7 linked regions of the Homo sapiens genome follow. The protein of the gene in region 6 interacts with the protein of the main gene of each other region in a biochemical or structural test. Each region holds a gene or a part of one and is shown on either strand. Other genes may lie near its edges. The genes, in order: CARM1, HNF4A, PML, ESR1, FOXO1, CREBBP and RELA.

Evidence for each region.
Region 1: of the proteins of CREBBP (region 6) and CARM1, one has a biochemical effect on the other in vitro, tested with the Homo sapiens proteins (4 studies listed by BioGRID, with this or other methods).
Region 2: the proteins of CREBBP (region 6) and HNF4A form a complex in vitro, tested with the Homo sapiens proteins (4 studies listed by BioGRID, with this or other methods).
Region 3: the proteins of CREBBP (region 6) and PML form a complex in vitro, tested with the Homo sapiens proteins (2 studies listed by BioGRID).
Region 4: the proteins of CREBBP (region 6) and ESR1 form a complex in vitro, tested with the Homo sapiens proteins (2 studies listed by BioGRID).
Region 5: the proteins of CREBBP (region 6) and FOXO1 form a complex in vitro, tested with the Homo sapiens proteins (3 studies listed by BioGRID, with this or other methods).
Region 7: the proteins of CREBBP (region 6) and RELA form a complex in vitro, tested with the Homo sapiens proteins (9 studies listed by BioGRID and IntAct).

Annotation. Positions count from the first base shown.
Region 1 is NC_000019.10:10,912,567-10,916,822, reverse strand, and holds part of CARM1 (histone-arginine methyltransferase CARM1), read right to left. Parts: intron 2,947-4,256; coding exon 2,769-2,946; intron 417-2,768; coding exon 326-416; intron 128-325; coding exon 46-127; intron 1-45. UniProt on the Homo sapiens protein: Methylates (mono- and asymmetric dimethylation) the guanidino nitrogens of arginyl residues in several proteins involved in DNA packaging, transcription regulation, pre-mRNA splicing, and mRNA stability.
Region 2 is NC_000020.11:44,430,767-44,433,846, forward strand, and holds the end of HNF4A (hepatocyte nuclear factor 4-alpha), read left to right. Parts: 3' UTR 1-2,079; downstream 2,080-3,080. UniProt on the Homo sapiens protein: Transcriptional regulator which controls the expression of hepatic genes during the transition of endodermal cells to hepatic progenitor cells, facilitating the recruitment of RNA pol II to the promoters of target genes. Activates the transcription of CYP2C38.
Region 3 is NC_000015.10:74,032,374-74,036,629, reverse strand, and holds part of PML (protein PML), read right to left. Parts: intron 4,059-4,256; coding exon 3,915-4,058; intron 3,475-3,914; coding exon 3,216-3,474; coding exon of another isoform or gene 3,208-3,215; intron 2,153-3,207; coding exon 2,100-2,152; coding exon of another isoform or gene 1,974-2,099; exon of another isoform or gene 1,459-1,973; coding exon of another isoform or gene 679-1,458; exon of another isoform or gene 624-678; coding exon of another isoform or gene 570-623; exon of another isoform or gene 236-569; intron 1-235.
Region 4 is NC_000006.12:152,097,486-152,101,287, reverse strand, and holds part of ESR1 (estrogen receptor), read right to left. Parts: intron 2,557-3,802; coding exon 2,322-2,556; 3' UTR 1-2,321.
Region 5 is NC_000013.11:40,558,642-40,562,897, forward strand, and holds part of FOXO1 (forkhead box protein O1), read right to left. Parts: exon of another isoform or gene 4,048-4,256; intron 2,220-4,047; coding exon 882-2,219; 3' UTR 868-881; intron 394-867; 3' UTR 1-393. UniProt on the Homo sapiens protein: Transcription factor that is the main target of insulin signaling and regulates metabolic homeostasis in response to oxidative stress.
Region 6 is NC_000016.10:3,764,958-3,769,213, forward strand, and holds part of CREBBP (CREB-binding protein), read right to left. Parts: coding exon 4,217-4,256; intron 2,953-4,216; coding exon 2,763-2,952; intron 1-2,762. UniProt on the Homo sapiens protein: Acetylates histones, giving a specific tag for transcriptional activation. Mediates acetylation of histone H3 at 'Lys-18' and 'Lys-27' (H3K18ac and H3K27ac, respectively).
Region 7 is NC_000011.10:65,655,839-65,660,002, forward strand, and holds part of RELA (transcription factor p65), read right to left. Parts: intron 3,960-4,164; coding exon 3,828-3,959; intron 2,985-3,827; coding exon 2,880-2,984; intron 2,662-2,879; coding exon 2,449-2,661; intron 98-2,448; coding exon 17-97; intron 1-16. UniProt on the Homo sapiens protein: NF-kappa-B is a pleiotropic transcription factor present in almost all cell types and is the endpoint of a series of signal transduction events that are initiated by a vast array of stimuli related to many biological processes such as inflammation, immunity, differentiation, cell growth, tumorigenesis and apoptosis.

The sequences.
Region 1 (4,256 bases), on a different chromosome or scaffold from region 6:
AATGGCAAGTGATCACTGCAGCAGTACCCTGGAGGCCCTACTCACCACCACAGGCTGCCGGAAATACTCATCCACCGCGGCACCTCGGAGGGCCGACAGGTCCACTCCATGGAAAGATGGCTGGTACCTGTGGACAGGCCCCACCCCCACAGCAAGGTCAGGGCTGCAGAAGAGGCAGGTGGGGTAGCCCTGCCTTCTCTCCCAGTCAGCCCTCATCTAGCCCAAGTCTTTCAGAAAAAGAGGAGTGCAGGCTCTCTGGGGAGCTGGGGCTGTCCCTGAGAAGGCAGGCTGTGGGGCCCAGGCGGGACACCCAGGGCACACTCACCAGAAGTTGGCCTTGGTGAACTGCTCCATGTAGAGCTGTTCATCCGTGAAGGGTGCAAGGTGGACGTCACCAATGGTAGGAAACATGTTTCCTGGGAGTGGGGCAGGGAGGGGTGCTGGCGTCAGGTGACACATCCCACACTGCCTGGCAGAGCTTCCAAAGGACCCCAAGACCCCCAACCCTGGGTGCTCCCAGCCTGTCATCCATTCGTTCCTGCACTCCTGTGACAGTGGCACCGAGCGCCTATTCTGATCAGTGTTTCATCACCACCACGGGTACCTGACCTGCACCAGCTCACGAATTCCACCTGAGACTGGGAGGCTGGTGGCTCATCTTTATGTCCTATTACTAGACCTGGCAGGTGTGAGGGACCTGCCAAAGACTCACGGGGAAGCAGGCAGTGCCCGGGATGTGGCCAGGCGCTGCCTCTCAGGCCCTGCCGTCTGTGCATGTGTGCAGCCGGGAAAGCATAGCAAAGTTGCTCTGGACAGAGGGAGGGTGGTGGGCCCCGGGCTACCCCAACGCCGCTGGGGACCTCAGTTGAGGCCAAGAGCCAGGTGGGGGAAGCCAAATCCACACCACAGGGACTGCCTAGGTTCTGGCACAGGCACCCAGCCGGCAGGATGGGCCACTTGGCCTGCCTGGTCTGGGCACACAGACTGAGGGAAGGGCAGGGCCTCCCTCTGTGACTCAAGGGTAGACGCATGAGTCAGGGCCAGTGGCAGGGAGGATCAGGGCCCCGCAGCCCCGCCTGCCCCAAGGAGCACCTGGCCTCCAGATGTGGGCCCCCCAGCCTTGCAAGCTGGGGGAGGAGATCCTGAGGTATCAGTGGGACTCTGCCTCCTCCTTACGCCACCAGGCTGTACCCGAGGCGAGAGCTGCAGGGCTGCAGCTGCTGGAACGGGGAGGGAGATGCACATGCTGCGGCTTCTGCCCTGGGGGACCTGGGGGCACCATGGGAAGTGACCCAGCCTGGAAGGAACCTCTGGCTCCTGCTGACCAGAAGACATGTGACTGGGAGAGGGGAGGGCTGCCTTTAACCCCTGGAAGAGCTTCCTGAGCTGGACAGGAGTCCTCCTTGCACAGGCCTGGCCTCCCCCCTCCCTGCAAGCTGGCTGCTGGGACGTCGGGGGCACATGCAGCTGCCCACAGAGCCTGACTGCCATCTGGCTTCATGTCCCATCGGGAGGGGCCCTCTCTGCTGGGGCTGTCCCCACCCCCATCCCCACCATCAGGGCAGAAGGGGAGGAGAGTGGGGCCCACAGCCCCTGGAGCAGCCTTGCTTCCCATACTCACACCCAAGACATGAGACACAGCTGTGGGACGCCACCTCCCACCTCCAGGAGCACAGCCAGCCAGGACCCTAGGGCCTGGATCCAGGGCGGGCCAGAGATGAGAGTGGAAGCTTCCCCCCTGCCCCTGCCTGCACAAGCCCCACCAGCCTGCTGCTGCCCACGCTCCATCCCATGGCTGCTACCCTGGCTGGGGACCTGTACCCTGCCACACGCACACACAGCTGCTTGCCTGTACAGAAATGCTCAGACGCTCACATACCTAGCATGAGAAGAGCCACAGGCACATGCCTCAGGCGTCAGGGCTGCACAGACCCCAAGACAGATGGGCAAATAGAAACAGTCACCCAGGCCAGGCACAGTGGCTCATGCCTATAATCCCAACACTTTGGGAGGCTGAGGCGGGTAGATCACCTGAGGTCAGGAGTTCGTGACCAGCCTGACCAACACGGTGAAACCCCATCTCTACTAAAAATACAAAACTTAGCTGGGCGTGGTGGTGCACACCTGTAATCCCAGCTACTCAGGAGGCTGAAGCACAAAAATTGCTTGAACTGGGGAGGTGCAGGTTGCAGTGAGCCGAGATCGCACCACTGCACTCCAGCCTTGGCAACAAGAGTGAAACTCTGTCTCAAAAAAAGAAACAGTCACCCAGTGACCAGAGGCCATACCCAGAGGCACGGATGGGAAGTGACAGATGGGCTTGCCAGACAGCTACCTCACCTCCTCACACACGTACACTCGCACCCACACCCCTGCATTTGCACACATGCTCGCCCACCCCACCTCCTGGACTGTGAGGAGAGCAGGGCTTGTTGGGGAACTGCTGACCACAGAACCTGTCCCAATCCCCACTCCCAGCCAGAGGCTGTCCCGCAGGAGCAGGACATGGGACGGCAGAGGTGCCAGGAGATCCTGTGTACCCTGTCTGGGCGAGTGGGCAGCTGGGTGTCTGGCCGTGTTTGGGGCCCAGGGCTCCAAAAGCCACAGCTGGCTGGAGTGGGGTTGGGGTGGGAGCGGGGGAAAAGCCCAGGCTTCCCTACACCCCGGGCCACCGACAGTAAGCAGGGAGCTGAAGCACTGATGGCCTGGCTCAGCGGCAGCCAGGGCCTCCACCGAGGGGCCTGGCCTGTGTACCCCCCAGTGCTCACCGCTGGGCTTCAGGTACTTCTTGGCGTGGAGGTAGCTCTCCAGCATGCGCTCGTTGAAGAGCATGTAGCCCATGGGCTCCGAGATGATGATGTCCACCTGCTCGGGGAGTGACACCTCCTCCACCTTGCCCGGGATGACCACGATGCGGTCCGTCAGGTTGTTACTCTTCACCAAGACCTGCAGGCGGGCAGGGCCATGTGGGCTTCCCTGCGTCTTCCTGCCATGGGGCCCTCCCTAGACCTGCTCTCAAGGGACAGCCTCCATCCACACATGGGCATTGGGTGCCCCTCTGCCTGCTTCGCTGGCGCCCCAACCATGGCTGCGATTGGCCATAGCCTGTTAAGAGCTCACTGTGGGCCGGGCACGGTGCCTCATGCCTGTAATCCCAGCACTTTGGGAGGCCGAGGCAGGCGGACTGCTTGACCTCATAAGTTGGGAGACTAGCCTGACCAACATGGAGAAACCCTGTCTCTACTAAAAATACCAAAAAAAAAAAACTATTTTTTTTTTCTTTGAGACAGATTCTCACTCTGTTGCCCAGGCTGGAGGTGGTAGTGGCGCCATCTCGGCTCACTGCAACCTCTGCCTCCCGGGTTCTAGCGATTCTCCCACCTCAGCCTCCCGAGTAGCTGGGACTACAGGCACCCACCACCACGCCTGGCTAATGGGGTTTTGCCACGTTGGTCAGGCTGGTCTCGAACTCTTGACCTCAGGTGATCCGCCCACCTAAGCCTCCCAAAGTGCTGGGATTACAGGTGTGAGCCACCATGCCTGGCCTAAAAATACAAAAATTAGCCAGTTGCAGTGGTGGATCCCAGCTATTCAGGAGCCTGAGACAGGAGAATCACTTGAACCCGGGAGGTGGAGGTTGCAATGAGCCAGGATCGCACCACTGCACTCAAGCCTGAGCAACAGAGTGAGACCCCCCCCAAAAAAAAAGAGAGTTCACTGTGACCCCGGCCCTGCCTCAGGGCCGTCCCCTGCTGCGGCCTCCTAGGTCCCCCACCCTGCGTCGACAACTGCTGGTGGCTGCAAAGAGGGGGACGAGCAGACATCACAACAGCCACCAAAGCTAAAGCTGGATGCACCCCCAACCCAGCGATTCCAGGGCTAGGGTGTGTCCTACAGACACAACCGCATGTGGGAGAGGGGCTCAGGACAGCAGCGTTGGCCACGTGAAGACCTGGAAGGAGTCTGAGTGTCGCTGCGGACACAATGCAGCTAAAGCAACAGCGGCACGGCTGGGCACAGGGGTGCTCTGCGGCGGCAAGACAGAACAAAGATGGCCCCTCCACGACCCCGGCGACCCCAGATCCATGGGAGAGGCAGAGCAGGGAATGGAGGGTGCAGCCTCCACTGGTGCGAGAGGACGCTCACGGAATAGCTCTGCTCAGACTTTGTGGCCGTAGCTCCTCTCTCATGATGGGGCTGGGGGTGGGAGCTGGGGTGGGGAAGGAGAGCACGCTGTCTGCTCTTTTTTAGCTTTT
Region 2 (3,080 bases), on a different chromosome or scaffold from region 6:
GGGAGGTCAGGTGGGGTGGATGATATAATGCGGGTGAGAGTAATGAGGCTTGGGGCTGGAGAGGACAAGATGGGTAAACCCTCACATCAGAGTGACATCCAGGAGGAATAAGCTCCCAGGGCCTGTCTCAAGCTCTTCCTTACTCCCAGGCACTGTCTTAAGGCATCTGACATGCATCATCTCATTTAATCCTCCCTTCCTCCCTATTAACCTAGAGATTGTTTTTGTTTTTTATTCTCCTCCTCCCTCCCCGCCCTCACCCGCCCCACTCCCTCCTAACCTAGAGATTGTTACAGAAGCTGAAATTGCGTTCTAAGAGGTGAAGTGATTTTTTTTCTGAAACTCACACAACTAGGAAGTGGCTGAGTCAGGACTTGAACCCAGGTCTCCCTGGATCAGAACAGGAGCTCTTAACTACAGTGGCTGAATAGCTTCTCCAAAGGCTCCCTGTGTTCTCACCGTGATCAAGTTGAGGGGCTTCCGGCTCCCTTCTACAGCCTCAGAAACCAGACTCGTTCTTCTGGGAACCCTGCCCACTCCCAGGACCAAGATTGGCCTGAGGCTGCACTAAAATTCACTTAGGGTCGAGCATCCTGTTTGCTGATAAATATTAAGGAGAATTCATGACTCTTGACAGCTTTTCTCTCTTCACTCCCCAAGTCAAGGGGAGGGGTGGCAGGGGTCTGTTTCCTGGAAGTCAGGCTCATCTGGCCTGTTGGCATGGGGGTGGGACAGTGTGCACAGTGTGGGGGCAGGGGAGGGCTAAGCAGGCCTGGGTTTGAGGGCTGCTCCGGAGACCGTCACTCCAGGTGCATTCTGGAAGCATTAGACCCCAGGATGGAGCGACCAGCATGTCATCCATGTGGAATCTTGGTGGCTTTGAGGACATTCTGGAAAATGCCACTGACCAGTGTGAACAAAAGGGATGTGTTATGGGGCTGGAGGTGTGATTAGGTAGGAGGGAAACTGTTGGACCGACTCCTGCCCCCTGCTCAACACTGACCCCTCTGAGTGGTTGGAGGCAGTGCCCCAGTGCCCAGAAATCCCACCATTAGTGATTGTTTTTTATGAGAAAGAGGCGTGGAGAAGTATTGGGGCAATGTGTCAGGGAGGAATCACCACATCCCTACGGCAGTCCCAGCCAAGCCCCCAATCCCAGCGGAGACTGTGCCCTGCTCAGAGCTCCCAAGCCTTCCCCCACCACCTCACTCAAGTGCCCCTGAAATCCCTGCCAGACGGCTCAGCCTGGTCTGCGGTAAGGCAGGGAGGCTGGAACCATTTCTGGGCATTGTGGTCATTCCCACTGTGTTCCTCCACCTCCTCCCTCCAGCGTTGCTCAGACCTCTGTCTTGGGAGAAAGGTTGAGATAAGAATGTCCCATGGAGTGCCGTGGGCAACAGTGGCCCTTCATGGGAACAATCTGTTGGAGCAGGGGGTCAGTTCTCTGCTGGGAATCTACCCCTTTCTGGAGGAGAAACCCATTCCACCTTAATAACTTTATTGTAATGTGAGAAACACAAAACAAAGTTTACTTTTTTGACTCTAAGCTGACATGATATTAGAAAATCTCTCGCTCTCTTTTTTTTTTTTTTTTTTTTTTTTGGCTACTTGAGTTGTGGTCCTAAAACATAAAATCTGATGGACAAACAGAGGGTTGCTGGGGGGACAAGCGTGGGCACAATTTCCCCACCAAGACACCCTGATCTTCAGGCGGGTCTCAGGAGCTTCTAAAAATCCGCATGGCTCTCCTGAGAGTGGACAGAGGAGAGGAGAGGGTCAGAAATGAACGCTCTTCTATTTCTTGTCATTACCAAGCCAATTACTTTTGCCAAATTTTTCTGTGATCTGCCCTGATTAAGATGAATTGTGAAATTTACATCAAGCAATTATCAAAGCGGGCTGGGTCCCATCAGAACGACCCACATCTTTCTGTGGGTGTGAATGTCATTAGGTCTTGCGCTGACCCCTGAGCCCCCATCACTGCCGCCTGATGGGGCAAAGAAACAAAAAACATTTCTTACTCTTCTGTGTTTTAACAAAAGTTTATAAAACAAAATAAATGGCGCATATGTTTTCTAAGTCCTTGGATAAGTATCTTTTCTTTCAGGTATCAGAAATAAGACTGAATCTTCTGGTTCTACTTGGGGGTTAAAAAATTTTTTTTAAAGGAAGAATGAGAATAGTTTTATAGTTCTTTGTGATGTGCAGAATGTTTTTGTGTCCATTATAATTTTTCAGTCTTCACATCAAGAGGTAAGCAGTTAGACATGATTACTCCCACTTTCCAGATGAGGAGACTGAGGCTTGGGGGAAGTGACTTCTCTTGGAAGGCAGAGGTGGACATCTAACCCTGGTCTCTTGATTCCAAGTACTTAGTATATCGAGAGAGTGAAAGTTGATCCCCCTTCTTGAAGAGGGGAGTGATGAGGGGAGAGTGCAATGGCAAGATCTGGAAGAATGGCAAGAGGGTCCAAGGGTCTGTCATCCTCCACCAAGGTTCAAGACAGAACCTTTTGCTGGGTCACCTCAATCTGCCAGCAATGGAAGATGAGTAGCTGTGGGGACATTTCATAAAAGCAAGTGGTTTTTTTGTTTTGTTTTGTTTTGTTTTTTGTTTTTTTTTCTAGAACAAGGCTGTGCACAGTGGCTCACCTCTGTAATCCCAGCACTTTGGGAGGCTGAGGCGGGAGGATCACTTGAGCTCAGGAGTTCGAGACCAGCCAGAGCAATATAAGGAGACCCCATCTCTACAAAAAATTTAAAAATTAGCCAGGTATAGTGGTGTGTGCCTATAGTACCAGCTACTCTGAAGGCTGAGGTGGGAAGATTGCTTCAGCCCAGGAGTTCGAGGATGCAGTGAGCTATGAATGCAACACTGCACTACAGCCTGGATGAAAGAACAAGACTCTGTCTCAAAACATAAATAATAAGTAAAAAGAATAAAAGCAAGAGATGCACTTGAGAATCTCCAGCCAGATCTGTAGCCACTGGGCTTCTCTCCAAGGCTAAACTATTACAGGAGGGTGGCCTTGTGTCTCGGTCACCACAGACCACAGCGTTCCATTCACTCGGGGTTGTGC
Region 3 (4,256 bases), on a different chromosome or scaffold from region 6:
CCCTGAGAGGGACAGAGGATCTTACCAGACGGCCAGGAAGGGGCTGGAACAGTCCAGGAAGCAGGGGGCCTTGACCCTACCTCCCACCTCTGATGCCCATGAGTGTGGGAGGAAGAGGGGACATGGTATCCCCAGAGGAGAACTGAGTTCCAGCATAGGGAAGAGAGAACAGCCTGCAGGGAGGAGCTGGATCCATCGGAGAACGCGATGGTCGTGGAATAAGGGTTCGCAAGGGTGATGGTTCAACAAGTGTTTATTGAGCAGCCACATCTGCCAGGTCTTGGGATAGCCAGTCCCTGTGCTCATGGGCTTAGATCCTGGCAGAGGCCTAGTGGAGAGGCTTGGGGTGGGGGTCGGGGCATGGAAGGCTGTGCTATTGGCCAGGGACTCAGAATACAGGAGAGTGCAAGGGTGACAGAAGTTTCTTTCTTGGGCAAAGAGGCCTGGAATGGTGGCTTGAATCTCAGCCATGCCTTAGCCTTCCCCTCTCAGCCAGAGAAGACCCAGGTCTCCCTGCCCAGAGGTCCATGCATAGCCATTCATTCGTTGATTCATTCCTTAACCAAGAATTAATGAGTGCTACTCTGTGCAGGGCCTGTAAGAGCATGGGCTGGAGGAGGCAGCTCAGGGGCCGGGCAGGGGTGTTGGCTGCAAGGTTACAAGAGAAGGGTAGCACTCTCAGAGGCCTGCTTGACGGGCGCCTGGGACTGGGCTGATGGGGGGCCTTTCTGGGGCACAGGGTGGTGGGAATGTAATTGGAGAGGCTTCCAGAGGCACTTGGACTTGAGAGGCCTCCATGGAGCCTCTGACAGAGTCCCCAGGGGGAACACCTGCTCCAAGAGTCTGGGCTCTGCTTTCCCCTGCCCCCACCACGGAAGACATGTCAAGCTGGGAAGCCATGGAGGAGAAGGGGAGGGCAAAAAAGTTGTTGAGCCACTGGGATAAATGGGAGGAGCCCCGGAGGGAGCGGCTGCGGGATCGCACAGCCCCTCGTATCCGGTGGGGTGGGCTGATGCCCCTTTGCAGCTGGGCAGGATGTTCCTGGGCATTGGCAGGATGGTTGAGGGGCCCTGTGATGGCAGGAGTGCTGGCTTGGACCACATGGGGAGACCAAGTCCGAATAGGGGCCCGATGCAATTGAGGGTGCAAGCGGAGGGCATGGCGAAGGCGGATGGCTCTCTGTGCTCTGTACAACAGGTAGCGGATCCCACGGTGGACGGCAGGGCGCTCCTGGTGATCAGGAGGCTCGCTGTGAGGCTCAGCATCGGGGGTGGCAGCCTGCTCAGCGGGCTGGTGGGGAGGCCAAGCTGGGGGGTGGTATGTGCCACAGGGCAGGCTGGAGGCTCCTTGTGCTCTCAGCAGAGACTGGACTGGCGAGGAGTGGGCTGGCGAGGAGTGGGCTGGCGAGGAGTGGGCTGGCGAGGACTGTGGCTCGGCGGTCTCCATGGGCTCCATGCACTTTCCAATACAGAACCTCAGACTGAGGGCTGGAAGAGACCTCAGGGGCCACCCAGTCCAACCTTTCACTCTATTCAGATCCCCTTTTCCCCTGGACAGGTGATAGTCCAGCCTCTAGTAATAAACCTCTAGGGACAGAAGGGTCACTACCCACGAGGCCACCTGTTTCACTGTGGAATGGATTTATATATCTTTCTACATGGATGGAGTCAAACCTCACTTGTTTGGCCCCTATATAGCTGCCCTGTGGCCTGACACCCCTTCACTGGCCCCCACTGGCTGTAATAAACCAAGGAATGGATTCTTGTCCAGCCCTCCTCACTGAGGACTTAGAGGACAGAAAATGCATAAGGAAGCTCCAGACAAAGGTCTTGGACATTCCAGAAAAGAGACAGGGCTCTGGACACATGCTATCAGCATTTCAGAAGAGCTCCTGGCCCTGGTGTAGTGGGAGGGCTGGGGTGGTCCAGGCATGCAGCTGTCATTTGGAGACTGTCCTCAGCACAGCTTGGGACTCAATGCCTCACTGGAAAATTCCCCAGGCGCAAGGCAAGTCTGAGAGTCACCTGCTGTGGCTGTGCCCCCTGGGACCTGAAATGGGGGGAGGCAGGAGTCCTGGGCTGAACTTCTGGGCCACTCACCGAGTTTTCGGCATCTGAGTCTTCCGAGCTGCTGATCACCACAACGCGTTCCTCTGAAACGGGGAAGGGGAGATGCATTATGAACTGCCTAGGATGCATGCTGGGAGGGGTGTGGGTGTGCACCTATGGGAATCCTTGCAGGCCAGTCGGCTGGGGGAAACGGATGCCCTGCAGGGGGACGGGAACAGCCACTGTGTGTGCCAATGTGACTCTGCTTTGCATTTGGATTTGAGTAATTCACAAATGGGTTTCCATAATTTCTTGCTGTGCCTTATCTATGAATATTCAATTAAGTTATCTGCCCAGAATTCAGAATTTGCCCCCTGTACAGGAGGCCTGACAACTGCTACCTGGTCTGGAACCTTCTGCAATCCTAAAGAAGCACACTGTCCCCATTCTCAGCTCCATGAGCTGGGATGTCTAGAGTTAAAAGACGCTTCATTTAGTTAATCAAAACCCATCGATTACCAATAGCATTTGTGGGTAAGGAATATCAGTCAGTGCTCAGTGTGTGACCAAGGCTAGGGCTCAGTCAGAATGAGGAACAAAGCTGTACTCTGGGTGAAGCAGATCCTTAGAACTCTCTTGTTCCAGATTCCTCTGGGTTGACCTCAACTCCTGCCCAACTGACTACCTGCCTGGCAGTGTTCATAGAAGATAACTCTGACAAATGAGATACTTAGGTAGGTGGCCTTTGCAGAAACACTTGGGGAAATGATGGGTGTAGACTGAGAGAGCAGAGTTAAGGTCATGGGGAGTCCAGTTTCCTGTTATGGTATGCCCAAGCCCTCTCTGGGAGTATGCTAGGCATCAGCCAACAAACTTCTTGTGGAGACCTGCCCTGTGCAAAGGCACAGTAGTGTTTGGGAGAAAGGACTCATAGAACTGTGCATTTTAGCCTGTCAGGCTCCCCACACCTCAATCATGGCAAAACACATGGTAAACTGTGTCCACTCTCACCCCCACGCACACTGTGAACTTTCCCTATCTTATTCAGTGGGAATAAGGGACTCCTGTTGGCTTTGGGCTTTCTGGATGGGGCCAAAATACAGAAGAGGGGCACCGCCCAGACCCTGGCGGGCAGCACCCAGGCCACTGCCCTACCCACCTCCCTACCTGCCTCCCCGGCGCCACTGGCCACGTGGTTGCTGTTGGGCAGGAAGACCTCACTTCCTATGACGGGGCTCCTGGGGCTAGGCGGTCCATCCAGGTGGGGTGGTGAGACTGCCTTGGAGGTGCTGGGCCTGGGCTGCTCCGGGGAGCTCCGAGCCAACCTTGCCTCCTTCCCCTCCTCAGACTCCATCTTGATGACCTTCCTGGGGCACTGGGTCTGGCTGCACTTCCTCTTCTGGGCTGTCGTTGTATTGGAGACATCCTGCATAGAGGGAGTCACAGAGCCAGGTCAGGTGCCTGCAGGGGTGAGTGGGCAGAGCCTGCCCTGACTGCCAGGGACTTGTGGCCACCCTTTTGCTCCTGCTGTCCCCTCTCCTCTGCTCTCAACCACGCAGATTACGTCTCTCTTCAGACAGGAAGCCTTCCCAAGCTGGTACTATCTGCTGTCCACCAGTCTCTGCTGGCCTCTGACAACCCTGAGTGTCTCAGCACCCCTGCTGGGCTGGGAGTGGGCCATGCTTATGGGAAGCTCCCTGACCATGCAGCCAAGAACAGGGGAGAGCACAGAGAAGGCGTTGAGCAAACACTTTCCCACAAAGAGCTGATCTGATGAAGGCCTGGATTCCCACCCCAGTGCCAGCTCACTTTCCTGGTGGAACTCAGGCCTTCAGGAGGGAAGGCTGGGGCTGGGGAGAACCTTACCTCTCCATAGGAAGGGCCTTTGATGGAGAAGGCGTACACTGGCACGGGGTGTGCCCCGGGCACTGACTGTACCACAGCCATAGGCTGGGCTTCAGCCAGCCCCAGGGCCTGAACCTGGGCCTTCACTCTCTCTGCCTCCTCGGGCTGCAAAGTTGGGAAAATTGAGTCAGAAATGACTAGGCAGCAGCCCCAGGGCCAGGTACCCCAGACCTGTGGTTGGCCTAATCCCTGGGGCCTCACCAAGTCACAGGTCCAGGCTCCCTGACTCAAAGCTCCGAGCTCACTGGGGACAAGAAGTCCTCCAAACTCTCCATCACATCACCTCCTTTTTTTAAAAAAATT
Region 4 (3,802 bases), on a different chromosome or scaffold from region 6:
GATATTTTGGTAAAAGCAAAATTAGCTGCCCTGAATAATTTTCCTTTTCAGGCATAATCTTTGCTACATAAGATTGTCTGTCATTCAGTATCCAACAATAGGCATCTGGATTAGTGCTATTTTGTCTACTGTGGATACAAAAGTTGATATGAAATGTGATCTTCATTTAAATGAATAATCACCAGGCTTTAGGCATAAATGACTGTATACATGACAAGGTAGCTTGAAAAGTATACAAAAAAAAAAAAAAAAACTAAATATTTTTCCTTGGTTTTTGCATGTTAACCCAGTCAAATTAAATCCAGAACAGAATTACTACATTCAATTGTCTGATAAACAAGCAATGTAATTTCAAAAAAATATATATTATACTATATAAGGTGCTTCTTAAACAAACTAAGGTGCTTCTTAAACAAACAGCAACAAAAGAATTATGTTCTTAAACATATCCTTAACACAGATACATAAAATTGTCCCCAAATTTAAGTGCACATAAAAACTTTTTTTTTTTTTTTGCCCTCCCAGATTCTCAGTCCTTTGGTGATCACTTAACTGGACAATCAGAAATGAATGAAATCCACTTTTCCAAACAAGACATACCAAGAGAAGCCCGAGCAGCTCACCTGGGTCATTGGCTAACACAGACATCACCTCTCAATAGGGTTTCAATTACAGACAATAAGGTCACCCAGAGGAAATCAAACATTCTTTTTTGTTAAGAAAAAGGAAGTAACCCATAATTGTGCTAGAGAAGCAAAGGCCCAGGGAAGGCTGCCCTGTGGCTGGAATGAGCCTTTCTTTTTTAGCCTATAGGTCAAAGGAAATTGAAGGAAATGAGCTGGCAGGAGTGGAGGCGGTAGGGAACGGGGCGGGGGAGGAAGGGGGAGGATTTTCTTCCCCAAACCAAACCCTGATTTTGGATTATCTCTAAACCACCAAGGGCATACGTAATCTGACCAGGCCCCAGTCAGCCTGAGTAGTGACAGCAACGGTCCCCACCCTTCTCCCGTGCCCCAGGGTGCTGGGCCAATTGTAGGAACACAGCTGTCTACAGCAGCTGTGACAGCTGCTTCTTCCAACCAGGGCCACGCTGGGAAATGAAGAAGAGCTGGACTACCCCAGGGATCCCAGGGCACCCCCAAAGGGCAATGCGGGGTCTGCAAGGAATGTTCCTAGGTAGCTGCAGCCTGTGGCAGGGCCACCCTGAGCAAGTCTGGCTGTGCCTCAGAACTGTATCCAGTTTCTGCCCTACTTTCCCTCTTGTTCTCTAGTAGCCACAACAATCCTGCACAAGTACTGTTCAGCTCCATGCCCCAGGGCTAAATGCAACACCAGGGCCCCTGCTCCTTTCAACTACCATTTACCCTCATCATGCATCACCACAGTGAACAGTTCACCCCTGTGTAAGGCACACACACGCCGGGAAGATCCAAGTACAGTGCCCACTGGAACAGGTCCTGAAGCTGACCTTACTGCAAGTTCAGGGAGGGAGGGCTTTCTTTTGTAACACAAAAATAAAAACAAAAATCAGGAACTTATCCCTCATATAGGGAGACTTAACTAAGATCAACTTGCTGCTCTCCATAGGTCCATGGGAGGCATGAATTAACTGGAACCCATGACCGGAAAGCCAGAGGCAGAGCTTTCAGCACATCTGAATCTGCAGTGTATCAAGTTAAAATAGTCTTGCCAACTAGGGGATCTGCCTTCCCTGTGTGCCCCTTGTATTCCTATAGGGGGAATGAATTGACAATCACCAGATACTCTGCTACAGTCATATAAAAGCTTTAAGGTGTACCACTTTCATAAAAGGATGCATTGCCATAGGAATACAAGAGGGTGCTATAATAAACCCTTGACCTAGCTTTCTCCAAGTCACCAATTAAAGGAGCCACTTTAAATTCTTTGCTGTGGCTTATTCTTAGAGCCATTTAAAAAGTGCTTATCAGAGGCAAAATGTCTACTCTCCAGGCCTGGGTCTCTACAAGTAGCTTAAATGCACAGAGTTATCTGAGCCCCAACCCATAGACTGAGTTCAGCTGTGAAGAGCTACGGGAATCCTCACGCTTAGTAACATAGCAAGGGGGAAAGAGAGCTGTTACAAAGATTTAGCCTTGGAATCCCTTTGGCTGTTCCCAACAGAAGACAGAAGATGTGCCACTAAGAACTGAGCAAGCAAATGAATGGCCACTCATCTAGAAAGCCATTGGTGTTGGATGCATGCCGGAGTGTATGCAGGAGACAGAATTTGGCTAAAGTGGTGCATGATGAGGGTAAAATGCAGCAGGGATTATCTGAACCGTGTGGGAGCCAGGGAGCTCTCAGACCGTGGCAGGGAAACCCTCTGCCTCCCCCGTGATGTAATACTTTTGCAAGGAATGCGATGAAGTAGAGCCCGCAGTGGCCAAGTGGCTTTGGTCCGTCTCCTCCACGGATGCCCCTCCACGGCTAGTGGGCGCATGTAGGCGGTGGGCGTCCAGCATCTCCAGCAGCAGGTCATAGAGGGGCACCACGTTCTTGCACTTCATGCTGTACAGATGCTCCATGCCTTTGTTACTGTAGGTGGGAAGACACAGAAAGGACTACTTTAGAGCCAACCCGAGCCCCAGGAGTGCTGAAATCCCTAGAAGGGGAAGGAAGAGGAACTCCAAAGACACTTAGCAATCTTTCTTTCTTCCTGTTTAAAGACCCACTTTAGGATGGGAGCTGGGAAAGCTGAGGGCTTTCAGAAGCCCTAATCTGGAACTCATGGCCGTGTGTTTTTCATTTTCCACCTCCTACCAGGGCGGTCCCACCCTCACACTCTCCCTGCAGCCACTTTCAGGGTATTTGCTATGCAGGTGACTTCCATGGACCTCCGTGGCCTCAAATGAGATCCTATTCCCCTCCAATAGGACCTAAATGCATTCAAATAGGATCGCCAAAGCTTCTAAAAAGACAACATGAGATATTCAGCCAAGCAGGAGTGGGTATTTTAAATGAGTAAAGCAGTTCAAGACGCTCCATTGTTAAATCTCTCACGTCACTTCCCATTTAACTCAGAATACGATCTAAATGCCTTTCCATGTTCAACAAGGCCCAACTGGTCCAGCTTCCATCCATGTCTCCAAGCTCTTCCTGCCTCTCTCCCCTAATGTGCTCTCCGGAGCCACACTGATTTTTGTGCTGCCCTTAAAGGAACTAAGCTCCCCCAAGACTTAGGGGACCTACACTTGCTGTTCCTACTTGCTGGGATGAACCTTCCTCCGGTCTTCAAATGCCGCCTCCTCGGAAAGGCCTACCGCTACCCAGTGGCAGCAGCCTCAAGCCTCTGCAGGCTCAGCCTTCCTCTTTCACACCGTTCTGTTTTTCTCAGCACTCTTATCACTGCCTGAAATTCTCCTTTTTATTTATTTGTGTTTATTCTCCCGCCTCCAAACACACACGTGCACACACTCACACCCTCAGTGCGAATTCCTAGAGAAGCAGGCTTTATCCTGTCCCCTGCTAGGCCTAAAACAGTGCCCAGAGCTCAGTTCACGTTCAGGAAAACAAGGGGGGAAATGGGCAGCGGGAAATGGGCAGAGGGAAATGTAGGCAAATGGCATTCTCCTTTCCCTACTCTCCTCCTCTGCTCTCCTCCACTAGCCACAACTCTGCTGCCCCACCACACTACTGGTGGCGGGGGTGGGGAGGAGAACAACTATTATCTAGTTTGAAATTTCTTTTAAAAGAAATATGTATCATGAGTAGCAGGACCAAGAGAAGGTCTTAGAAAAATTTGCATTTTTAGTAGGGGAAAATTCAGCTCAAGTTGGAGACT
Region 5 (4,256 bases), on a different chromosome or scaffold from region 6:
ACTTTCCTTGGACCAATTGGATATTTAGAAAAACCAAAAACACACACAAATACAATCTGTATCTACTGCTTATATACAAAACTTGAAAGCACACCAGGATCTGAAAATCTTTTCTGCAATTATATGGTGTAGTGAGTTTGGCACTTCATTGTAATGAAATTTCCAATGGCACAGTCCTTATCTACAGCAGCACATAACCTGCACACATTGGGCAAACATCCTGTACAGGAAAAATGTCTTTGCTGCCAAGTCTGACGAAAGGAAAAAAGGAGGGTTTTTTTTTTTGTTTTTTTTTTTAACCAAGAAAACTAAAAGGGAGTTGGTGAAAGACATCTTTGGACTGCTTCTCTCAGTTCCTGCTGTCAGACAATCTGAAGTACTTTTAAGTGTAACCTAGGAAAAAACACATACATACGCACACACACATACACACACAATGAAAATATAGCCAAATTAAAATCAATTCAACTTAACATGTTAAGAGTGACAGACATACTTAGGGGCAAAAAGCTAGAGCTTTCTCAAACAGCTCTAAAATCATTCAATGGGGAAAATTCTACTTTACAAAAAACCCTTCAGCATTTGATTTATATCAAATGTATTCATTTATTGAAGAGCTACTAAAAAGATGCAGCCATCGAACTGTCAAAAAGAAATCTTTAAAGCAGTTAAAGGAAGCTTCCTTCTGTGTAAGCTCAGAAGGAAAACTGTAAGCTGCAAAAAGGACAGAGAATGAATGATAAAAGATCCCTCTCTGCAAGGGACAGTCAGTTGACATCAAAGATGTGCTAACCATGGCAAGTTACTGTGTTCCTCGCTTTTAAGTTCTATTTTTCAAAAGGTCTTTTGATATTGGGGTGAACTTACCTGCTCACTAACCCTCAGCCTGACACCCAGCTATGTGTCGTTGTCTTGACACTGTGTGGGAAGCTTTGGTTGGGCAACACATTGTCAAAGTTAAAATCCAATGTATCTCCATCCATGAGGTCATTCCGAATGATGGATTCCATGTCACAGTCTAAGCGCTCAATGAACATGCCATCCAAGTCACTTGGGAGCTTCTCCTGGTGGAGAAGGCCCATTCTGCCATAGCCATTGCAGCTGCTCACGGAGGAGTAGCCCCCCAGGGCACTCATCTGCATGGGGTGGGGCAGAGGCACTTGTACAGGTGTCTTCACTTGGGTCAGGCGGTTCATACCCGAGGTGTGGGGCATGGTGCTTACCGTGTGGGGCAGGGGACGCCCGTTAACTGCAGATGTCTGCTGAGCATGTCCAGGGTGGGTATGGGAGCTGGGATTCATCATTTTGTTATGAGATGCCTGGCTGCCATAGGTTGACATGACCGAATTAGGGCCCATCATGACGTTCTGGCCCAGAACCCGGCTGTTGGGCTGGGCTACCCCAGGATCAACTGGTGTCATAATGTCATTATGGGGAGGAGAGTCAGAAGTCAGCAACTCCTTCAAGAGTCCAGGCGCACAGTTATACTGACTCATACCTCCATAACTCGACTTATTGTCCTGAAGTGTTTGTATAGGCATCTGGGGCAAAGGGCTCATGCTGGATTGGCCATATGTATATTTTTGGTAGTTTGGGCTGGGTGAATTCAAACTGGTGTTTGGTGGCGCAAACGAGTAGCACGGCGTCTGCTGCATCATGGTGCCAGGTGAGGACTGGGTCGAAACAGTTAATGATGTTGGTGATGAGAGAAGGTTGAGATTATCCAAAAGATTTTCCATGTTTTCGGGATTGCTTATCTCAGACAGACTGGGTAAAGTAGAGGCCATCTTTGCGGCAGATGGCGGGTACACCATAGAATGCACATCCCCTTCTCCAAGATCATCCTGTTCGGTCATAATGGGTGAGAGTCTCCCACTAATAGTACTAGCATTTGAGCTAGTTCGAGGGCGAAATGTACTCCAGTTATCAAAGTCATCATTGCTGTGAGAGCCAGGGCTTGCAGGCCATTTGGAAAACTGTGATCCAGGGCTGTCCCCAGCACCCTCCTGGCCAGACTGGAGAGATGCTTTCTTCTTGGCAGCTCGGCTTCGGCTCTTAGCAAATTTACTGTTGTTGTCCATGGATGCAGCTCTTCTCCTAGGAGATTTCCCGCTCTTGCCACCCTCTGGATTGAGCATCCACCAAGAACTTTTTCCAGTTCCTTCATTCTGCACACGAATGAACTTGCTGTGTAGGGACAGATTATGACGAATTGAATTCTGTAAGGCAAAACATCTTATTAGAAGTACAATACTTCTCTGCTTGCAAAACTTCCTATTCTACATGTATTACATGGAAAACAAGTAAAAAATCTTAAGAGTGTGTGCTACAGATTTCCATCTGAACAGTCCTAATGGCTCTGAAGCCACTACAAAAGATCTCAAATAGCACAGGAATAAATAGTATCTTATCTTAAAAACAATATCTGTGGCTGGGTGCGGTGGCTCACGCCTGTAATCCTAGCACTTTGCGAGGCCCAGGCAAGCGGATCATGAGATCAGGAGATCAAGAGCATCCTGGCTAACACAGTGAAACCCCATCTCTACTAAAAATACAAAAAATTAGCCAGGCATGGTGGTGCAAACCTGTAGTCCCAGCTACTCGGGAGGCTGGGGCAGGAGAATGGCGTGAACCTGGGAGGCGGAGCTTGCAGTGAGGCGAGATCGTGCCACTGCACTCCAGCCTGGGAGACAGAGTGAGACTCGATCTCAAAAAAAAAAAAAAAAAAATTCTATATCTTAATTTAATGAAGGGACAAAATTTAATAAAGAGTATTGTAAATACCTTCTTTTATACAGCTACATTTTATGGAAAAATCAAAGGAATTGGTTTTAATAACCGCTTAAATTTTGCTTAGCTACAATAGTACTCTGTATCAAAGTGCTATCAAAAACCCCTTCCATTCTACTATCCTTAAAACTACTGCCAATTCTCTTCAGTTTGAACCTGTGCCATTTACATAAAGAAGTTTTATATTACTGGGCCCACATACTTACAGAAACAAAAAAGACAAAAGAATATAGAATATATAGAATATAGAATATAGGCCAGGCATGGTGGTTCACACCTATAATCCCAGCACTGTAGGAGGCCAAGGCAGGCAGATCACCTGAGGTCAGGAGTTCAAGACCAGCCTAGCCAACATGGTGAAACCCCATCTCTACTAAAAATACAAAAATTAGTCGGGTGTGGTGGCAGGCGCCAGTAATCCCAGCTACTTGGCAGGCTGAGGCAGGAGAAGGAGACTGCGGTGAGCTGAGATCACTCCAGCCTGGGCAACAAGAGTTAAACACTCTGTCGCCAAAAAAAAAAAAAAAAAAAGAATATAGAAATATAGAGCTGATCAAGAATTAAAGGCCCCCAAATTAATAAGACTTGGATTCATTCACACCTTTAAAGCCCATTAAGCAAATACAAGTGAATGTAAGGAAAACAGAGTCATTGCTTTTGTATTTGAGAAAGCTGACCTGCCAAAAGAAATTTTTTTTTAATTCAAGTAGTGCCCCTACCCTCCAGTTCTACCAATGACCAGTAGTATGAGCAGGATGCACCAACTAACTCCATGACACACCTCCACGTAGCCAGGGGCTACACTGTCCAAACAGACAACCTGGGATGGGAAGAAATGACAGAGAACGCAAAGAGCTCTAACTCTCAAGCTACCGCAGCTTCATAACTAATCATGCCATGTTTATCATCCCTAGGCCAACTAGGGAAGAAAAACCAACAATCTTTCTTTTGAGTACTTCCTGGGTGGCTCTGCTACTTACTTACCTAGGTGACCTTGGGAAGCTGCCTAGCCCCTAATGTGTCTTAAGTTTCCTCACCTGTAAAGCAGGGCTAAATTACAGAGCCTTATCAGGGTTGTTACATGTACTAAATGAGATACATAAAAATGCTCAGCGGTGCCTGGCATGTAAGCAGTCACCATGAAGGGAATATTAGACCCCAACTTAGAATAGTGGTATCCTGCGCCCCAAAGTCCTGCTTCTCTATTCCTATTCAGTGTGGTATGTATAGGAGCTTAGAAGTAGTACAGATACAAACCCACAACTGCAAATATATGGTGAAAGGGGCCAGAGGTGGTCTCTCCAAGTTTCAGCAGAAACACCAGAGCCAGGCTGCAGATGAGAAAGCCATGGTTTGATTCACCTCCTCTACAACACAGAGTAAGATGGTGTTCAGGGGAGTCCGTGGGACACGTGGAAAAGGAGACGAGGGAAACGCTGTGAGCTCCCCAGAAGGAAGGGCCTTGT
Region 6 (4,256 bases):
TTTTTTTTTTGTTTTGTTTTTGTTTTTGTTTTTGTTTTTTGAGACGGCGTCTCGCTCTGTCTCCCAGGCTGGAGTGCAGTATCTCGGCTCACTACAAGCTCTGCCTCCTGGGTTCACACCATTCTCCTGCCTCAGCCTCCCGAGCAGCTGGGACTACAGGCGCCCGCCACCACGCCCGCATAATTTTTTGTATTTTGTTTAGTAGAGACGGGGTTTCACCGTATTAGCCAGGATGGTCCTGATCTGCTGACCTCGTGATCTGCCTGCCTTGGCCTCCGAAAGTGCGGGGATTACAGGTGTGAGGCACCGCGTCTGGCCGCCTGGTACATGTCTTTTATTCTGTGTGATGAAACATTCTGCCTATCTCCTCACACAGAATAAAAGATGTGCGCTGCATAGGCACAGTGGCCACATCAGGAGGCAGTACTTGGGCAAGTGTTGGAATTTACAGCTGAAGTAGCTGCTTGCCCTCGTGGAGCACATTAAAACTTTCAGGAATGACTGAGAGATAAGCTATAGTTACTAAGCTCTGGTTATATGTCAGACATTTTCTCAGAAATGAACAAAGAGGGCCAGTTACTTCAAGGACAACTGACAGTATTTGTTGCCAATGCTAAAATTTGGGCTTTCATAAAAAAATCAAATGCTTTGGAAAACTTGTACATGGGCTTCACAGCTTCTCAAAATTTATTATTAGTATTATTTTTTGAGACAGGGCCTCACTCTGTCACTTAGGCTGGAGTACAGTGACATGATCAAGGCTCAGTGCATCTTTGACCTCCCAGGCTCAGGTGATTCTCCCACCTCAACCTCTCGAGTAGCTGCAGCTACAGGCATGCACTACCATACCCAGCTAATTTTTTTTTAATAGAGATTAGGTTTCGCCATGTTGCCTAGGCTGCTCTCGAACTCCTGAGCTCCAGGCTAGAGTGCAGTGGTGCAATCATAGACCCTGAATTCCTGGGCTCAAGCAATCCTTCCCCCTCAGCCTCCCAAAATGCTGAGATTACGGGTGTGAGCCACCATGCACGCCCTGCTTTTCTAAGTTGGTAAGACTTGTTTGAAGAGACTGATGGTGGTATTAACAAATGTTGATTTTTTTTTGACACTGTATAGTGAAATATGTCAACATATGGAAAATCTGCAGAACTTAAGTGTCAATTGAAAAAAAAATCATGCAAGCACAAAAGATCCATTCCAAGTACAAGATGGATCAATGGATTCTAATGTCACAGACTATGAAAAATCCAGTGCTATAGATTCTGGTTCAATGTCGCAACTAACCTTTAAGAAACCTTCACTGGCTGAATTTTGGTATAGTATCAAAGAATATCCACAATCAGCTGAAAGGGCTACGAAAATACTTCTCCCTTTACCAACTACAGGATTTTCTTCATACACTTCAACCAAAATAACCAATCACAACACAGTAAATGCAGAGGCAGATACCCTTAATAACGCCACTATTCTTACTTATTTTTGTTTTGGAAAAATTGTTTTTCATATAAATGTTTTCTATGGGTGCCATGTAACAGACTATTTTAAATGAACTAAATATTTAAAAATTTTTCTCTTTTTTTTTTTCAGACAACAATCTCACTTTTGTCTCCCAGGCTAGAGTGCAGTGATGTGATCTGGGCTCACTGCAGCCTCAAACTCCTAGGCTCAGGCAATCCTGCCGCTTCCGCTTCTCGAGCAGCTAGAATTATAGGCGTGCACCACCACACTTAGCTAGTTTTATTTTAGTTTTGTAGAGATGGAGCCTTGCTATGTTGCTCAGGCTGGTTTTGAACTCCCAGCATCAAGCAAGCCTCCCATCTCAGCCTCCCAAAGTGCTGGGATTACAGGTGTAAGCCACTGTACTCAAATTTCTCAACTTTAGTTTCCAGTAGAGTAAGCAATGATAGATAATCCACACAACAACTCTCTGGGGCCCTCAATTTCTAAGAGTATAAAGAGCCCTGAGATTCACTGTACTCCACACTCTCCAGGGTCCCTTCCAGCTGCAGAGTAACATGGTCTCAGTCTCTAACATTTCTCTGCAATCTTTCCCAAAAGTGTCATCTGCAGCCTTGGACTTTCTGAGTCCTGTCTCCCATTTCTAAGGTTCACTTGACAATTTTCTGATACCCTGTTATCTCTTTACTGTGGATACATCTCAAATGGATTCCATCCAACTTCCACTGTGAGGCGGGCTTACCTCACACATCTCAGACCCCAAAGATGCCTAACCTACCCCTCCCCCATGTCTCACTACACAGGGTCCCTAGGCGCCACCCTGCCCCTCACTCTGCATGCTCAGCTTCCTCACTGCACCTGCAGAAACCTTCTGCCTCCAAGTCACCCTGTGCTGTCATAATGACCATCTTCCTTAAATTATGGCTTTTTTGGTTATTCTCCTACTCACATACATCACTGGTTCTTTATACTTTTATGAGTAAAGCCAAGCTCCTTAACCTGCTCAAGGACCCAGACACATTTCAACTCGGCCCCTGCCAGCACCATCAGAAGACAGCTCTGCAGCCTGGGTGCCCTCGGAGCAGCAGCTCATCTCTCACTCCTGCCATGAGCCCCACAGGCACAGGGCAGGGGTCCTGCTCAGCCTGAGTGTTTCTGCAGGGGAAAGTCTGGGGAATGGCAGGCAAGAAAGGTAAAAGGGCAGATAGAATTATGTTTCTACTTTAGCTTTTAATCCTCCACATGGAATCCTAACACCGTGGAAAAGCAGCATGCTTTAATAAGGTAATGAATAAATGGCCTACTTTTTTTGCGCGGCTGCGAAGGAGATGTTGACTGAGAGGCTGTGCCGTTACTGCTACTCTCTTCTTCCTCTTTAACTTCTACTTTCACTTCAGGTTTCTTTTCATCCACTTCCATTGGTTCTGATTTCTGCTCTGCTATGTCTGTTTCTTCTTTAACTTGGGAAGCTCCTTGCAAATCCTCCTCCATCATCTTGAGAAAAACATTACAGATAACATATGAATATCAAACACCTTTATGTTACCGCAACCTCACGGGAAGACTCTTACAAGCCTAAAACAGGTTTGTTAAAACCTTCCTCTAGTCAGAGTTGCATTTATGATTCCTCTTCTCTTCCGGAAGAAGAAATAAAGTACTTGGTGTTCATTAAGTCGCTTCAGCACAGAGTCAGTGCAATTATGGTCCTAAATTTAAAAGTGTTTTTTTTTTTTTTTTTTTTTTTTTTTTTTTTTGAGACAGAGTCTAACACCCAGGCTGGAGTGCAATGGCAAGATCTTGGCTCACTGCAACCTCCCCCTCCTGGGTTCTAGCAATTCTCCTGCCTCAGCCTCCCGAGTAGCTGGGATTACACGTGTGTGCCACCACACTCGGCTAATTTTTTATATTCTTGGTAGATATGGGGTTTCATCATGTTGGCGAGGCTGGTCTCGAACTCCTGACCTCAAGTGATCCACCTGCCTCGGCCTCCCAAAGTGCTGGGATTACAGGTGTGAGCCACAGCTCCCAGCCTAATTTAAAAGTTTTTAAATGTAAAACTGCTTTAAAAATTGCACATACTCAGATTTTTCACTACAGATATTTCTAATTTGGAATAAAAATCTCCTTGAAAGTTGGGGCAGGGACCAAAAGTCCTTCTCAGAGGCAGGTGTGGTATGAGACAGGAAGGAGCAGTGGGGACTGTGGCTAATTGGAGAGCCCACTACAGTTGGTGCTCACAACCAGACTGCTGTCACACAGGGATGCAGGCACAATGCTGAAAGCATCTCATTTTTCAAGAAAAGCCAGAAATCTAGAGTTTTATTTGCAATTTCCTGATTTTTAAGGTATTGTGTGGGCCAAACACATTTAGAGGCTGGATCCAGCCCACGGTCTGCCAGCTTTCAGCTTCTGCCATAGGTTAATTAGTAAATGAATCCACCACCCCTTCTGTAGTCTACCTCTGCAGAACTAGAAATGAATGGAGAACATAAAATAAAAGGCTGTTGGATGATTCAAGTATTTCAAATATAAGCCAGTATTCTTCATTTCGGGCAAAATAAACCCACCCCTCATATTTAAAAATGAAAAACCAAGCTGTTTTCAATCAATTTCCTATACACCAAACCCCGAACCCACATTCAAACAGAATATTTTAACTAAAGTCAGGGATACCCATGGCAGGCTCCAAGCCTCGCCCGAGGACACCTGGGTAAAGTTGCGATACGCAGTCAATGCATTCCTAGGGAGCGGCACCCACCTCAGACCTGGGCTCCCCTTTGGATTCACCAGGATCGGGC
Region 7 (4,164 bases), on a different chromosome or scaffold from region 6:
CCAGTCCCCATCTCACCGCTGAAAGGACTCTTCTTCATGATGCTCTTGAAGGTCTCATATGTCCTTTTACGTTTCTCCTCAATCCGGTGACGATCGTCTGGGAAAGTAAGGGGGAGAAGTGGGACTTGCTCTCCTCAGGTGGGTCCCCGACGCTCTCAAAGGTCCCTCAGGAGGAAGGGGAGGAGCCAGGCTTTCCCAAGACCCATTCTCCCAACCTTCTCTGCCAATGAGAAGGGATGTGTGACACTCAGCAGTTCTGAGAATCCCACAGCTTTTGGAGGCCTCTGTTGGCTGAATCTGCCCCTCTAAGACCACATGGTGAGGCCGAGTACAGGGGCCATGCTCTGGGCAAAGAGGAGACCTGGGGGGCCCCAGCCTCCAGCTCACACCTTCCTGCACTGCTCACATCCTGGCTCATTGTCAGCCTCCACCCAGGCCTGGCGAGAATTTCTTGGCACTCTGGGGCAGCTGAGGCACAACTGCCTTAAGACTTCAGCAGAGACTCTTATTCTTATCTCTAATGGTTTCATATTTTAGTCAGAGCTTTCAGAACTGTCTTTCTAATTACAGTGGTATTTCAGTAGCTCCAAAGCACTTCAATTCCATCAATTCAAAGACAACCTCATCATCCCTCAAAAACTAGGTTCTTTCTCCTGCATTCCCTGACCATCCGCCATCTGCCCTGTCACCAAAGCTAGAAACCTTGGAATGATTATCTTCTTTTCTCTCACTCCCCGCCAGTAACTTGACATATATTTATCAAGCACCTACTATGTGCCAGCCTCCCTTCTAGACACTGGGGATGTGGCCGTGAGTATGCACACAAGGTGTCTGCTCCCAAAAAGTTGGCATCCTAGTGAAAAAGTGAGAGGGACACAATCATATATACAAACCAGAAAATCTCGGCCAGGCGTGGTGGCTCACGCCTGTAATCCCAGCACTTTGGGAGGTCGAGGCGGGTGGATCACGAGGTCAAGAGATCGAGACCACCCTGGCCAACATGGTGAAAACCCCGTCTCTACTAAAAATACAAAAAATTAGCCGGATGTGGTGGCGGGCGCCTGTAGTCCCAGCTACTCGGGAGGCTGAGGCAGGGAGAATCACTTGAACCCGGGAGGTGGAGGTTGCAGTGAGCCGAGATTGCACCACTGCACTCCAGCCTGGGCGACAAGAGTGAGACTCTGTCTCAAACAAACAAACAAAACCAAACCAGAAAATCTCAAGTGACGGTGGTCCAGGGACGATATGGTGATGTAACAATACTGGAAGTGAGGTCAGGACAGTCTAAATGTAGAGGGAAGGGCTAATTTAGAGGTCAGGGAAGGACTGGCATGAGCCACTTGCATTAAAACCTTGGGCATTCCAAGCAGAGGCAACAGCTAGACACAGGTCCTGAGGTGAGACTGAGCTTGGTCTGTAAGACGCAAAACGGCTGCAGGGCTGAAGGGTAACTGAGGACAGTGGTGGAGATGTGATCTTGCTCTGCTATTCCTTCTGTAAGGTTTGTGCCGCATCTTCTCTTCCTGGACTACAGCAACATTTCCAGAATGGCCTCCCTGCTTTGAGTCTGTCTGTCTCTGATCTTCTACACGTGGCCTCCTGAGTCAACTTCCAAATCTGCTCCTGTCACCTCTCTGCTTAGAGGCCTTCAGCTTAACCAGGCCCTCCAATCTCTGAGCCTGCTCACTGCCCAACATCAGCTCAAACCACGAAGGTGGCCCTGAATAGGCCGTGCAGTTGCCAACACCCCTTCCCTTCCAGGTGCTGGGCCACCTGCCTGGAGAACACACTTCTGTGTCTTTCTCCAGCTTCAATGCCACCTTCTCCATGCAGCTGTCTCCAGCTCCCCGGAGGCCACTGTGCCCCCGTGCTTCTCTGCGCACACCTCCATTTCACATGTCATTCCGTGACTTAAGGATCTGTTTTGCACATTTGTCTTCCTCAAGTGACTGAGACTCTGAAGGGCAGGGAGCATGTCTTACTCATTTTTTGTATTCACAATACCTGGCACAGGCCCTGGTACCAAGTGGACACTCAAACCTCGACCAAAATGTGGCTGGGCTGTATGGTAGTGACAAGACAACCAGTGTGGCAAAAGGATCCTGAAGCCAGATGGCCTGGGTTCCAACGCTGACTCTGCTAGACTCTGCTACTTACTAGCCACGTGAACCCAGGCAAGTTGGACACTATCTCCTACTTCAAAAGGGTCATGAGATTAAAATCAGGTAATCCAGTGAAGTGCCTGGAATAGGGGCAGATGTGTAGTACTAGCTCAATGTCTGAGGTATCATTATTATTAAATGAGGCAAGAAATGGATTCCAGTTTCTTGGATCCCAAGCTCTGACTCCAGCTTCTGGCCCTCAACCACAGCCCCAGACATGCAGTCTTGGCCTCTCTCTCACGGCACAGAGCCCAGCTGCCCTGATGCTGCCACCCCAGCTGTGTACCTGTATCTGGCAGGTACTGGAATTCCATGGGCTCACTGAGCTCCCGGTCGGAAGGCCGCCGCAGCTGCATGGAGACACGCACAGGAGCCTGCAGGCTGGGGTCTGCGTAGGGAGGGGTCCGGAACACAATGGCCACTTGTCGGTGCACATCAGCTTGCGAAAAGGAGCCTCGGGCCTCCCAGCCTGGTCCCGTGAAATACACCTCAATGTCCTCTGCAGGAGATGCGGTGGCAGTGTGGGTCAGTGTGTCTAACCCTCCATGGTCTCCCCCTCAACTTCTGATGCTTGTCTTCTGATACATCACCCTTCGGCCCACCTGAGGCCCCCGAGGCACAGGAGGAAGTATCCAAAGCCAGTTACCTGACACTCCACTTCTCTGCTCAGCTTCACCCCTTGCTCCCAAGAGCCCACCCCTGCCTCCTGATGTATACCTTTCTGCACCTTGTCACACAGTAGGAAGATCTCATCCCCACCGAGGCAGCTGCCAGAGTTTCGGTTCACTCGGCAGATCTTGAGCTCGGCAGTGTTGGGGGCACCTGAGGCAGTGAAAACAAGGGAGGATGACCTGAGCCACGAGAGGTCCCCAGGGTGGCCTGCAGGAGATGCAACTTCCCTGCCCAGCCCAGAGTCAAGGTTGCCCAGAGCTTGCCACCTACACCTTTGTAGCCAAAGTCAGACCTTCTTATTAGCTCCTCACCCCAACCGATTCAACAAGTATTTGCCTACTGTGCACTCAACACTGATCTAAGCAAGAATACGACCACACACAAAACCCAAACCTCTCTGCTCTCCCGGAGCTTATAGTCCAGTGGGTGCCAATCTGATCACACTCTTTCTCCACCTGACCAAAGCAATCTTTAAGGCCAGTCCATACCCACCTTGGCAATGAGCCCTTCCCTCCTGACCCCCAGTTTATCCTGGTTTCCCATCCTTGGGGCTCCAGATTCGTTTTATTTCCATTCATCCTGCTGGTTACTTAACTAAAGACTGCAGCTGATCAGTCAGCCCAATTCATCTGTGGGCTTCCATCACTGAATCATCATTCTCGAACACTATCTTGTTCCTGGGAGTTCATTTCCTAGAGTCATTATCGCAGTTGTGGGCACACCACCTTCTCATCACACAATACTGAAAATGCCCATCTCCCATCAGACTCTCTGCTAGACTTCCTGCCAGGCCAGAGCTACACCTCAAGGACAGCTCTGGGTCTTCTTTGCCCTCTCTCCCCAGCCAACAAAGAGCTGGGCAGAGAAGAGTAGACAAATACGCAAGATGATTGAATGAAGCCAGAGCGCCTCTTGCAGGCCACACTCACCCCAACCCCCTTCCTCCTATTCAGGCCCACCCTCTCCCCTTCCTGCGTCTCCCTCGCTACTCACGATTGTCAAAGATGGGATGAGAAAGGACAGGCGGCAGGCGGAGGGGCCTGCCTGATGGGTCCCGCACTGTCACCTGGAAGCAGAGCCGCACAGCATTCAGGTCGTAGTCCCCACGCTGCTCTTCTATAGGAACTGCCAAGAAAACAGGCGATCAGGAGAGCAGGGGAAGTGGGGATATAGGTGCTATCAGTGGGGGCAGGGAGCTCTGCGCTGGGAGGGCCGCTGGTGCGTGTGTGAAACACAAGTCCTAGAGGAGGCAGAACCCAGCACTGACTCCACTGTGGCCTGAATGTCATGTCCCCTCCTGGGACTCAGTTTCCCAGTGGTAAAGTGGGAG